3 linked regions of the Homo sapiens genome follow. The protein of the gene in region 2 purifies or fractionates together with the protein of the main gene of each other region. This does not show direct contact. Each region holds a gene or a part of one and is shown on either strand. Other genes may lie near its edges.

Region 1 (3,654 bases), on a different chromosome or scaffold from region 2:
CACCATACCCGGCTAATTTTTTTTGTATTTTTAGTAGAGATGGGGTTTCACCATGTTGGCCAGGCTGGTCTTAAACTCCTGACCTTAAGTGATCTACCTACCTCGGCCTCCCAAAGTGCTGGGATTACAGGTGTGAGCCACTGTGCCCAGCCCTAAAATCATTTGTTTTTATTTGTGTAACTGTTACGTGTTGATACTGGTAGATCTAGTTATTTCATTTTAAATATTCTGTAGTATTTTGTTAAATGAATATCCTAACTTACTCCTCAATGATAGGCACCTCTTCAGTATTGTAAATATGTGGCAGCATCCTTGAGCAAAGCTTCTCGCGAGTGTATCTGCTTAGAAGTAGCGTTGCTGGGTTGTGGGTGTGTATTCTTAACTTTGATCTAGAAGATTGCTCTCCAAAATGGTTCTACCAACTTACCATTTGAGCAGTGTGCGTTCTTCTTTCCTCACACCACCTATCTGGCTTCTTAACCCATCTGGAGAATGGGAAGGGAATTTTATTTCTCTCACTTACCATATTTCTAATGAGGTTGAATATTGCTTTTTTTTTTTTTTTTTGTAGAGACAGGGTCCTGCTGTGTTGCCTTGCCTGGTCTCAAACTCCTGGCTTCAAGTGGTCCTCCTGTCTTGGCCTCCCAAACTGCCGGGATTAGAGGCATGAGGCACTGCACCCAGCCAAATAGGCACATTTTTAAAAGTCTTGGTTTTGTTGTTGTTGTTGTTGTTGTTGTTGTTGAGATGGGTCTCGTTCTGTCACCCAGTCTGGAATGCAGTGGCATGATTGTAGCTCACTGCATTCTCAACCTACTGGGCTCAAGTGATCTTCCCACCTTAGCCTCCCAAGTAGCTGGGACCACAGGTGCACGCCACCATGCCCAGCTAATTAAAAAAAAACATTTTGTAGATGGGATTTTGCCATGTTGCCTAGGCTGGTCTTGAATGCCTGAACTCAAGCAGTCCTCCCGCCTTAGCATCCTGAGTTGCCGGGACTGCAGGAATTTGTCACACGCCTGGCTAATTTTAATTTTTTGTAGAGTTGGGGGTCTTAATATGTTGCCCAGGCTGGTCTTGAACTCTTGGACTCAAGTGATCCATCTACCTCTGCTTCAGCCTCCCAATGTACTGGTTCAGGTATGAGCCACCATGCCCAGCCTAAAAGTCTTAATTCACCGTTTGTTTCATTGTTGCTAAGGGCTGTGTGACTCACTTTTTTTTTTTTTTTTTAATTTTTTGAGACCTAAAAGTCTTAATGCATCATTTGTCTCATTGTTAGTAAGGGCTGTGTGATTTGCCCTTTTTTTTTCCTTTTTTTTTTTTTTTTTTTTTTTTTTTTTGAGATGGAGTTTTACTCTTGTCGTCCAGGCTGGAATATGGTGGTGTGATCTTGGCTAACTGTAATCTCCACCTCCCAGGTTCAGGCAATTCTCCTGCCTCAGCCTCCCAAGTAGCTGGGATTACAGGCACACCCTACCATGCCTGGCTAATCTTTGTATTTTTAGTAGAGATGGGGTTTCACCACGTTGGCCAGGCTGGTCTGCAATTCCTGACCTTAAGTGATCTGCCTGCCTCGGCCTTCTGAAATACTGGGATTACAGGCATGAACCACTGTGCCCAGCCCTGATTTGCCTTTTTAATGCCATTTTTTAGGTGTGTCAGCAGCCTGAGTGTGGGAAATGTAAAGCCTGCAAGGACATGGTTAAATTTGGTGGCAGTGGACGGAGCAAGCAGGCTTGCCAAGAGCGGAGGTAGGTCAGGCCGAGTCTTCCTCCTGTGGCAGAGGACTTGCCAGCTGGTGGCAGATGCACTGTGGAGAAGGGCCTGCATGTGTGGGACAGCACCAGGATTCCTTCGTTAGGCATTGTCTCAGGACCTGTCCCTGTTATGAAGAAAACAGCCCCGGTTGGTCTTACTTAGAAAAGGGGCCTTAGGTATAACCAGTGACATTGCAGGTGTCCCAATATGGCCATGAAGGAGGCAGATGACGATGAGGAAGTCGATGATAACATCCCAGAGATGCCGTCACCCAAAAAAATGCACCAGGGGAAGAAGAAGAAACAGAACAAGAATCGCATCTCTTGGGTCGGAGAAGCCGTCAAGGTAACCCTTGGAGCCCCTTGGTCAGCTCACTGCCATGTTCCCAATAAGCAGGTTGCCCTCTAGTATCTCGCCAACCTGACCTCTCAGGCAGCCTGAGCCCCGGCACTAAGAAACCTGTCTGTTTGCCCCTGAGAAGAGCGGGACTGGCCAAGAGACCATGTTCCATGGCTCAGTACCAGCAAGGCATTTTTGTGTGGCCACAAGGCTCAGTTCTCCTAATGTCCCAAAATGGGCATTTGACACAGTTCTAGGGGCATCAGGCAGGTGAGCCCTCATAGCTTGTTTTTCTGTTTTGTTTTGTTTAAGATGGAATCTTGCTCTGTCACCCAGGCTGGAGTGCAGTGGCACGATCTCAGCTCGCTGCAACCTCTGCCTCCCAGGTTCAAGCGATTCTCCTGCCCCACCCTCCTGAATAGCTGAGATTACAGGCGTGCACCACCATGCCAGGCTAACTTTTTTTGTATTTTTAGTAGAGACGGGGTTTCATCATGTTGCCCAGGCCATTCTCGAACTCCGGCCTCAAGTGATCCACCCACCTCAGCCTCCCAAAGTGCTGGGATTACAGGCAGGAGCCACTGTGCCTGGCCCCTCATAGCTTGTTTCCAAGAGAGCTGTCACAGCCCCCTCTGGTGTGGGGTGGGTCTTTTTGGGGCACCAACAGATGGCCTCCCATCCGTTCTGTGGTCATTGGCTTCACTGAAGGTCAGTTCCTTTACCACAGTGTGAGAGAGAGGAGTGAGTATCCTCTGTGTTGCTTCTCTGACGTCCATAAATTAAAGATGCAATCAGTTCACTTAATTATGAGGCTTGCCACCTGCTGGCTGCCTGGGCCGTGGCTGAGCCCCTGCAGGAGGACAGACATGGGTACTGCTGCATGGCATGAGTGCCTCTGCAGGGTAGGGGGCTGGGAGGAGGCTGGGGCCACGAGGCCTTGCAGAGGTGACACCTGGGCTGAGATGGAGAAGGTCAGGTAGGACCTAGCCACACGACCTGGGGGAGAGCTGCACTGAGGTGGCAGTCAGCTTACTTTGTTGGAGAAAAGGAAGGAGGCCCCTGCAGCTGGAGTGGCTTGAGCCAGGGGATGATGGGCAGGACAGGGGTCAGGGTTCAGGCTGTGGCCTTACAGACCATGGTGAGGTATTGTGGGCTGTGCTGTTAAAATCAAATCCTGGGACCCGAGTGGCAGAGCAGAAGTGGGAGGGACATGGATGCCCTTGGCCACAGCATCTGGCCAAGGAAGGTGGATGTTCTTCTTTTTTCTTATTATTGAAGCCCTTGTAGAACAGGATGTTCTCTTTAGCAGCAACTCTTCATTGACTTCTTAATGAAATCGAGTCATGTCTTACTTTAAGTAACAGAGGACCATGCAAGTCAAGGCCAGCAAAGACCCTCAGAATGATCCTCCATGAACTTATGCTCTCATTTTCAGACTGATGGGAAGAAGAGTTACTATAAGAAGGTGTGCATTGATGCGGAAACCCTGGAAGTGGGGGACTGTGTCTCTGTTATTCCAGATGATTCCTCAAAACCGCTGTATCTAGCAAGGTT
Region 2 (3,654 bases):
CAATACTAGCGGGCTTCATGCTGCATTTCCCCCAGTGTATTTGTTGTATAGTGAATCTGATTAGGTATTATTTCTAGAACATTTTGGATATGTCATTTGTACCACACTCGTTCTTGTCCCCTGTCCCACCACTATGGTGTCTGTAATGATGCATCTTTTTATTAGGTTGATAAGATGACTAACCCTGGAATTGAAAAATCATTTTTTAATTGATTGCTTTACCAAGACTAAAAGCAGATGTCACAAAGTATATATCAGCTTTTAACTGGAAAGGCTAATAATTAGACTGTGTTGTTGACTTATTTAATATAATACAGATTTTTAAAAATAAAATAAATTTATAATATGTCTTTTCTAAAGAAATAAACAATGTACTTTCTCGAGAATAAAAATTAAAAATAGATAAAAGTAAAACAGTTAATTTTTAAAAATAGTAAAATTTTCAAACGAAGAAAAGAAAGCAGTACATCAAAAGGCATGTGTGAAAATGTTCATAGGAGCACTAATCATAAGGACTCCAAACTAGAAACAATCTAAGTGTTCATCAGCTATAGAATGGAGAAATAAATTGGGCATAGTCGTACATTAGAATACTGTACGACAGTGAAAATGGATTCACTTCTCATGGTTATTACAAAAATAATGTTGGGCAAAAGAAGCCAGACATACCAAAAAGTGTATTATAAACAGTGCAATAATATTATAAAGTAATGCCAGTAGTATAAAAGTCAGGAGAGGGAAGAGAAGTTATTGACTATGGGAAGGGGTGTGAGAGGGACTTTTGGGGGTATTGGTAATGTCTTGTTTTCTGATCTGAGTGGCATTTACATGTGTGTTCTGTGTGTTCAGTTAGTGAAAATTCATCAAACTGTTCATTTACGATTTGTGCCTTTTTTTGTTTTTTGAGATGGAGTCTCCCTCTGCCGCCCAGGCCGGAGTGCAGTGGTACGATCTTGGTTCACTGCAATCTCCGCCTCCCAGGTTCAAAGGATTCTCGTGCCACAGCCTCCCGAGTAGCTGGGACTACAGGCGTGTGCCACCATGCCCAGCTAATTTTTTGTATTTTAGTAGAGACAGGTTTTCACCATGTTGCCCAGGCTGGTCTTGAACTCCTGAGCTCAGGCAGTCCAGCCATCCCGGCCTCCTAAAGTGCTAGGATTACAGGCAGGAGCCACCGAGCCTGGCTGGTTTGTGCCCTTTTGTATCTGCGTGTTGTAGTTAAGTAAAAAGTTTTACTTAGTAAAATTGTTCTCACTATTTTAATTAATGTGATTATTGTGTAGGTTAAGTTTTAAGGGAAGAATGTGTTCAAAGTTCTAAAAGAACTGCCATGGTACTACCTGGGTGGAGCAGCCTCAGAAATTTCTGTTAGCAATACTGAAACATAAGTCACATATTACGACTTAGTGGTTGTGTATATCAGTTATTAAATGATCTAGCTTATTGATGTAAGCAATTTTTGTTCCCTTAGATAATTCTTTCCTGTCACTTTTTTTTTTCATTCTCTCCTTGACTTCCTTTTTTCTGGGAAATTATTTTGAAGGGCACTGTGATCTAGAGGGAATGTTGCGATTTTAGAGTCAAAGAGGCCTCAGTTGGAATCCTAGCTCCATCGCTTAGTAGCTGGATGATTTGAAACGAGTTACAAGTGCTGAGTCTCAGTTTTTTCCATCTTCATTGGTGAGCTAATATTACATACTCAGAAGGTATGCTAAGGATTAAATCATGCCTAGTTTGATTTAAAGCACATTGTGGATGTCAAGAGAATTTATCCTGCTTTCCTTCCATCCATCTACCCTGGCTCTTACTGATAGATATGAAGAAAGTCCACATCACCCTTACACTTGGGCTCTTGGTAGGATAAGAAAAAATCATCCACAGTATGTAGTGACTTTTTTAGGGGAGGTGTCAACACAGAAAATTGTAGAACTGCTCTGATACTATAAATATGTAAGAACTTCATTTATGTGAAAGCCACTTCTCTTCCCTACTAGTCACTCACCCAGCCTTGCTACTTCTACCATATACATATCATTGCTGCACTTTTTTACAGTTGCTTTGAATATGGAAGAAACAACTTTCCTATGGAGGGTCACAATGGAAAGGAAATTACCTGACCCTAAAGCTAAGTAAACTTGGAGTCTAAATAAATAATTGGCTTTCCATTGACAGGAAGTATACCTAAACTTAACCTTAGAGGCATCCCAGTGAGTATCTTTTCTGTTGATGAACATTTGTATTACACTAAACCTGCCACTTGAATTTCATTTTCTACTTTCAAGTCTTGATCTATGATTGCAAGTTTCAAGCTATGTATTTCTTATTTTTTATCCTCTCTCAGGCTATCTAAATCCTTCCATTTTAATTTTCCCATGAATATGAACAGACTTCTAACAATCAGAATAATTAGACTTATACTGAATGCCTTGTACCTATCAAGAGTTCTATGCCCAGTAGTATTTTGCAAGTAGTTATTAGGTATTGGTTTATTTTTAAATATTTGTAAGATTTTGTCCTAATTTAGCCCCATTGTTTTGCCCAGTTGTACAGTTTAACAGGGCGAATTACAAATGCTTTGTGTGGGTGTTTGTTTTTTTATTATTTATTTATTTTTTGAGACAAGAGTTTTACTTTTGTTGCCCAGGCTGGAGTGCAGTGGCTCAATCTCAGCTCACTGCAACCTCTGCCTCCTAGGTTCAAGCCATTCTCCTGCCTCAGCCTCAAACAGCTGGAATTACAGGCATATGCCACCATGCCTGGCTGATTTTGTATTTTTAGTAGAGATAGGGTTTCTCCATGTTGGTCAGGCTGGTCTCGAACTCCTGACCTCAGGTGATCCGCCTGCCTTGGCCTCCCAGAGTGCTGGGATTACAGGCATGAGCCACCGCCCCGGCTGTGTGTGTGTTTACACTACTTCCATGTGTATATAGTTAAATTTCATGTGAGCCTTATGTGAAAATCAGACCTATTCCTAATCATAATACACATTTTACAGTTTGAGTTACTTTCAGATTTCTTTGAGAAAGCAAAAGTGGCACCATCACCTTTCACCAATGATAGCTACCATGTGTTGCATTTCTATGTCCCAAGCACAACGTATACACATTTAAGATCAAATCTTCACTATAACCTCATATGGTCAGTATCTGAGAGATGAGCTTAGTGCCTGAGCCTCAGAACCCAATATAGTTGTTTAGCTAAGGAAATACCAAGACAGTAGATACTTTGCATGTTATATTTATAAGCCATGTAACACATAAATATGGATGATTTGAATCAGTTGATTGTGGAGGGAAAGGCAGCCTCACTCATTCCTATTAATGAAGGCAGCGTCTCCTTGTCCCAGGACTTGTTCATTGTTATCTGAAACTGGAGATTCAGGTGTTTCCAGAGCCCAGCTTTTCACTGCAGTGAAGTCTGTGCCCTACTTCACTAAAGAAACTCTGGTTGCAAGGTTTAGTTAGCTATCACTTTGTGAGCCTGGAAGAGCTAATTCAAAGTCATTGTTCTGTTCTCTGCTTCTTTGTTGTTGGTGGGGTGATATTGATCCACTTGGATTTGAAAGAATTTCTTATAAAACCTGTCACATAAGGCCAACCAAGTATGATTTACTACTATCATTCTATGGTCTGTATTACAATTTTTTATTTTTTT
Region 3 (3,469 bases), on a different chromosome or scaffold from region 2:
AGCTTAGCACCCATCATTAATTTATGTCTCTGTTTTATCCAGTGGTTAAAAAAGGATTCTGCCTCTTTAGTCCTCACTGTTAAATAAAACCCAATCATAGTAAGTGATTAACTAGCAAAAAGTAAAGCTATTTATAGCAAATTTCTAGATCATTAGAAAAGCACTGGTAGTTGTACAATATCAGTGTTGACTTTGAACTTCTTTAACGAGATCATGAATTCTTTTCCCTTAGCCAAAACATGAAATATTTAACCTAGTTGTCTCTAAAAGTTTTGTAATCATGAGTTAGATATATGTCATCTCCTATTCATTGCTTTTATGTGATCAATAAATCTTTTACAAACCCAACTACTCATTTCCTTCCTAGTAATACTTTGCCTTTTTCACTGTGTATGGAATGAAACATGTAAAGCTGTCACAATCAATGTTTTTATCTGATAATATTAAATATTTTTTAACTTAAAATAGGCCACTCAGTTTGTTCTTCAAGTATTTTAGGTAATGGTTGTTTTTAGAATTTGTGAACCAGTGTCTCTTAATTTTCAGTTTTCTTTATATAGAGGTTATAATAGTCTTAAACCCTAAAAATGTTTAAATCAAAAAGGAATTAGGAAAAACATAATGATAGGTATATTTCTATTTGTGTAGGGTTTTTTAATGTACAGCTTTATTGAGATATAATTCACATACCATACAATTCACCATTTAAAGTATACTATTCAGGCCAGGCACAGTGGCTCACGCCTGTAATCCCAGCACTTTGGGAGGCCAAGGTGGGTAGATCATTTGAGGTCAGCAGTTCAAGACCACCCTGGCCAACATGATGAGACCCCGTCTCTACTAAAAATACAAAAATTAGCCAGGCCTGGTGGTGTGCACTTGTAATCCCAGCTATTCAGGAGACTGAGGCAGGAGGATTGCTTGAACCTGACAGGCAGAGGTTGCAGTGAGCTGAGATCAAGCCACTGCACCCCAGCCTGGGCAACAGAGCAAGACTAAAAAAAAAAAAAAAAAAAAAAAAATGTATTATTCAGTGGTTTTTAATATATCCACAGAGTTACGCAACCATCACCACAATTTTAGAACATTTTCATCACCCCAAAAAGAAACCTTGTACTGATTAGCAATGGTTCCCTATTTCCCCCAACGCCCCTGTATTTCCTAGGGCTACCATAACAAACTACTGCAAACTTGGTGGCTTTAAAGAACAGAAATTTATTCTCTCACAATTCAGGAAGCCAGCACTCCTAAATCAAGTTGTCAGCAGGGTTAGTTCCTTCTGGAGGGTCTGCAGCAGAAACCACACATGCCTCTCCCCTAGCTTCTGGTGGTTGCCAGCAATCCTCAGCATTCTTTGGCTTGTAGCTGCAGCACTTCAGTCTCTGTCTCTGTCTTCGCATGGGCTTTTTCCCTGTGTGTCTCTGTATCTTCACATGGTGTTCTTATAAGGACAACATAGGAGCCAGACACAGTGGCTCAGGCCGGTAATTTCAACACTTTGGGAGGTGGAGGCAGTAGGATCACTTGAGGCTAGGAGTTCAAGACCCTGTCTCTACAAAAAAATAAAAAGTTAGCAGGTGTGGTATATACCTGCAGTTCTAGCTACTCAGAAGGCTGAGGTGGGAGGATCACTTGAGCCCAGGAGTTCAAGGATGTAGTGAGCTATGATTGTGCCACTGCACTCCAGCCTGGGTGACAGACTGAGACCCTGTCTCATTAAAAAAAAAAAAAAAAAAGCTGGGCGCTGTGTCTCACGCCCTTAATCCCAGCACTTTGGGAGGCCGAGGCGGGTGGATTACCTGAGGTCAGGAGTTTGAGACCAGCCTGGACAACATGCCAAAACCCCGTCTCTACTAAAAATACAAAAATTAGCCAGGTATGGTGGTGTGCACCTGTAGTCCCAGCTACTCAGGAGGCTGAGGTAGGAGAATTGCTTGAACCTGGGAGGCAGAGGTTGCAGTGAGCTGAGATTGCGCCACTTCATTCCAGCCTGGGTGACAGAGCAAGACACCTTCTCAAAGCAAAATACAAACAAAAAAAGGACAACATAGGGCCCGCAATCCAGTATGACCTTATTTTAATTACACCTGTAAAGACCCCATTTCCAAACGAGGACACATTCTGAGCTTCTGGATAGACATGAATTTGGGGAGATGCTGTTCAACACAGAAAACCTCCCAAACACCATAGCCCTAGGCAACCACTAATCTACTTTCTGTCTCTAGATTTGATTATTCTGAACATTTTTAGTAGGGTTTTCAATTTTGCACTCTATTGAAAAATGTGGCTAGTTTAATTTTTTGAGAGTGAAATATCCATTTATTATATTACAATATAGCTATATAATTTGACAATCTCCTATGTAGAATATACAGTACCTGTCTAAGATATTTTAAGTACACCAGCATTTCCTTTTAGGCTATGTCAATTGACTAGAACACACTATAGTAAATACATACACAGGTTTGATGTGGATTATAATGAAGTGGTTTTTTTCCTTAGTAATCTGTATCATAATTCCCAATTAGTGTCTTTTTCTGCCTTGGAAATTTCTACAGAATTGTCAATATCAGGATAGTGCGTAAAAGTACACTCACCATACTGACAAGCACATTTTCTATTTTGTTGCCCAAAACTCCCTGTCCTGTAAAGTGCTCTGCTTGCTTTTTAGTAGACATTTGATAAGTTAATGTTATATCCTTTGCAATGATATTATTTTGATGACAAAGTAAGTTTATGCTTTCAAAAATCACAATTCGGTCAGAAAAGTTTAGCATCTTAAAAAAATTGTTGCTATTTGAAAAAAACAAAACAAAACATATACTTGTGACTTTGTGGTCCAGCTGGCAAAAACTTGACATATCATCCCATGAAAATTTTAAGTCATGAATTATTTTGACATGACAATATTGCTAACAAAATCAAAATCAGCCGTTTAATAAACAATTATTCCACCAAGCAGTCTATATTCCTTTTGCCATATATACTGTTAACAGCAAAAATTTTGGATTTGCTACATATGCATGGGTAAAGGAGGTATTTAGACGAAATTTTGCTTTCTAAGGTTATACCAAAGACTTGAGAAAATCCAATTTACTCCCACATGGCACCAAACCAGCTCTCACTGAGAGTCATTATTTGGACCCTTAAGTCCAAATAATCTGTTCTTTTAATGAAAGGACATTTTACAGGTGGCATCATTCAGCGTTTGATAAATCCTTCCTTTAAATAGCCTCCTCCCTCTTTACAGTTGCCTCAAAAGACTTCAAAAAGCTTGAATCCACTTTTATCTTTCTCACCTTCCTCCTTCCCAAGATGATTCACACTACTTTAGAAAAAATAAAAATTTTATTTAAAAAAGTCTGTGCTGGGAAATTGTTTGAAATGTTGCCCTTATTAACTAGAAATCTTTTTACTCTCCAGAGCTTTACGCCCTCTCTCATAACAGATTTAAAATGGGGTTCAAGAT

The links.
Region 1: the proteins of NR2C2 (region 2) and DNMT1 purify together in Homo sapiens (affinity purification with western blotting; 2 studies listed by BioGRID, with this or other methods). This does not show direct contact.
Region 3: the proteins of NR2C2 (region 2) and KLHL7 purify together in Homo sapiens (affinity purification with mass spectrometry; 2 studies listed by BioGRID and IntAct, with this or other methods). This does not show direct contact.

What each region holds. Positions count from the first base shown.
Region 1 is NC_000019.10:10,149,850-10,153,503, reverse strand, and holds part of DNMT1 (DNA (cytosine-5)-methyltransferase 1), read left to right. Parts: intron 1-1,656; coding exon 1,657-1,754; intron 1,755-1,958; coding exon 1,959-2,106; intron 2,107-3,535; coding exon 3,536-3,651; intron 3,652-3,654. UniProt on the Homo sapiens protein: Methylates CpG residues. Preferentially methylates hemimethylated DNA. Associates with DNA replication sites in S phase maintaining the methylation pattern in the newly synthesized strand, that is essential for epigenetic inheritance.
Region 2 is NC_000003.12:14,953,945-14,957,598, forward strand, and holds part of NR2C2 (nuclear receptor subfamily 2 group C member 2), read left to right. Parts: intron 1-3,654. UniProt on the Homo sapiens protein: Orphan nuclear receptor that can act as a repressor or activator of transcription.
Region 3 is NC_000007.14:23,174,957-23,178,425, forward strand, and holds the end of KLHL7 (kelch-like protein 7), read left to right. Parts: 3' UTR 1-2,958; downstream 2,959-3,469. UniProt on the Homo sapiens protein: Substrate-specific adapter of a BCR (BTB-CUL3-RBX1) E3 ubiquitin ligase complex. The BCR(KLHL7) complex acts by mediating ubiquitination and subsequent degradation of substrate proteins. Probably mediates 'Lys-48'-linked ubiquitination.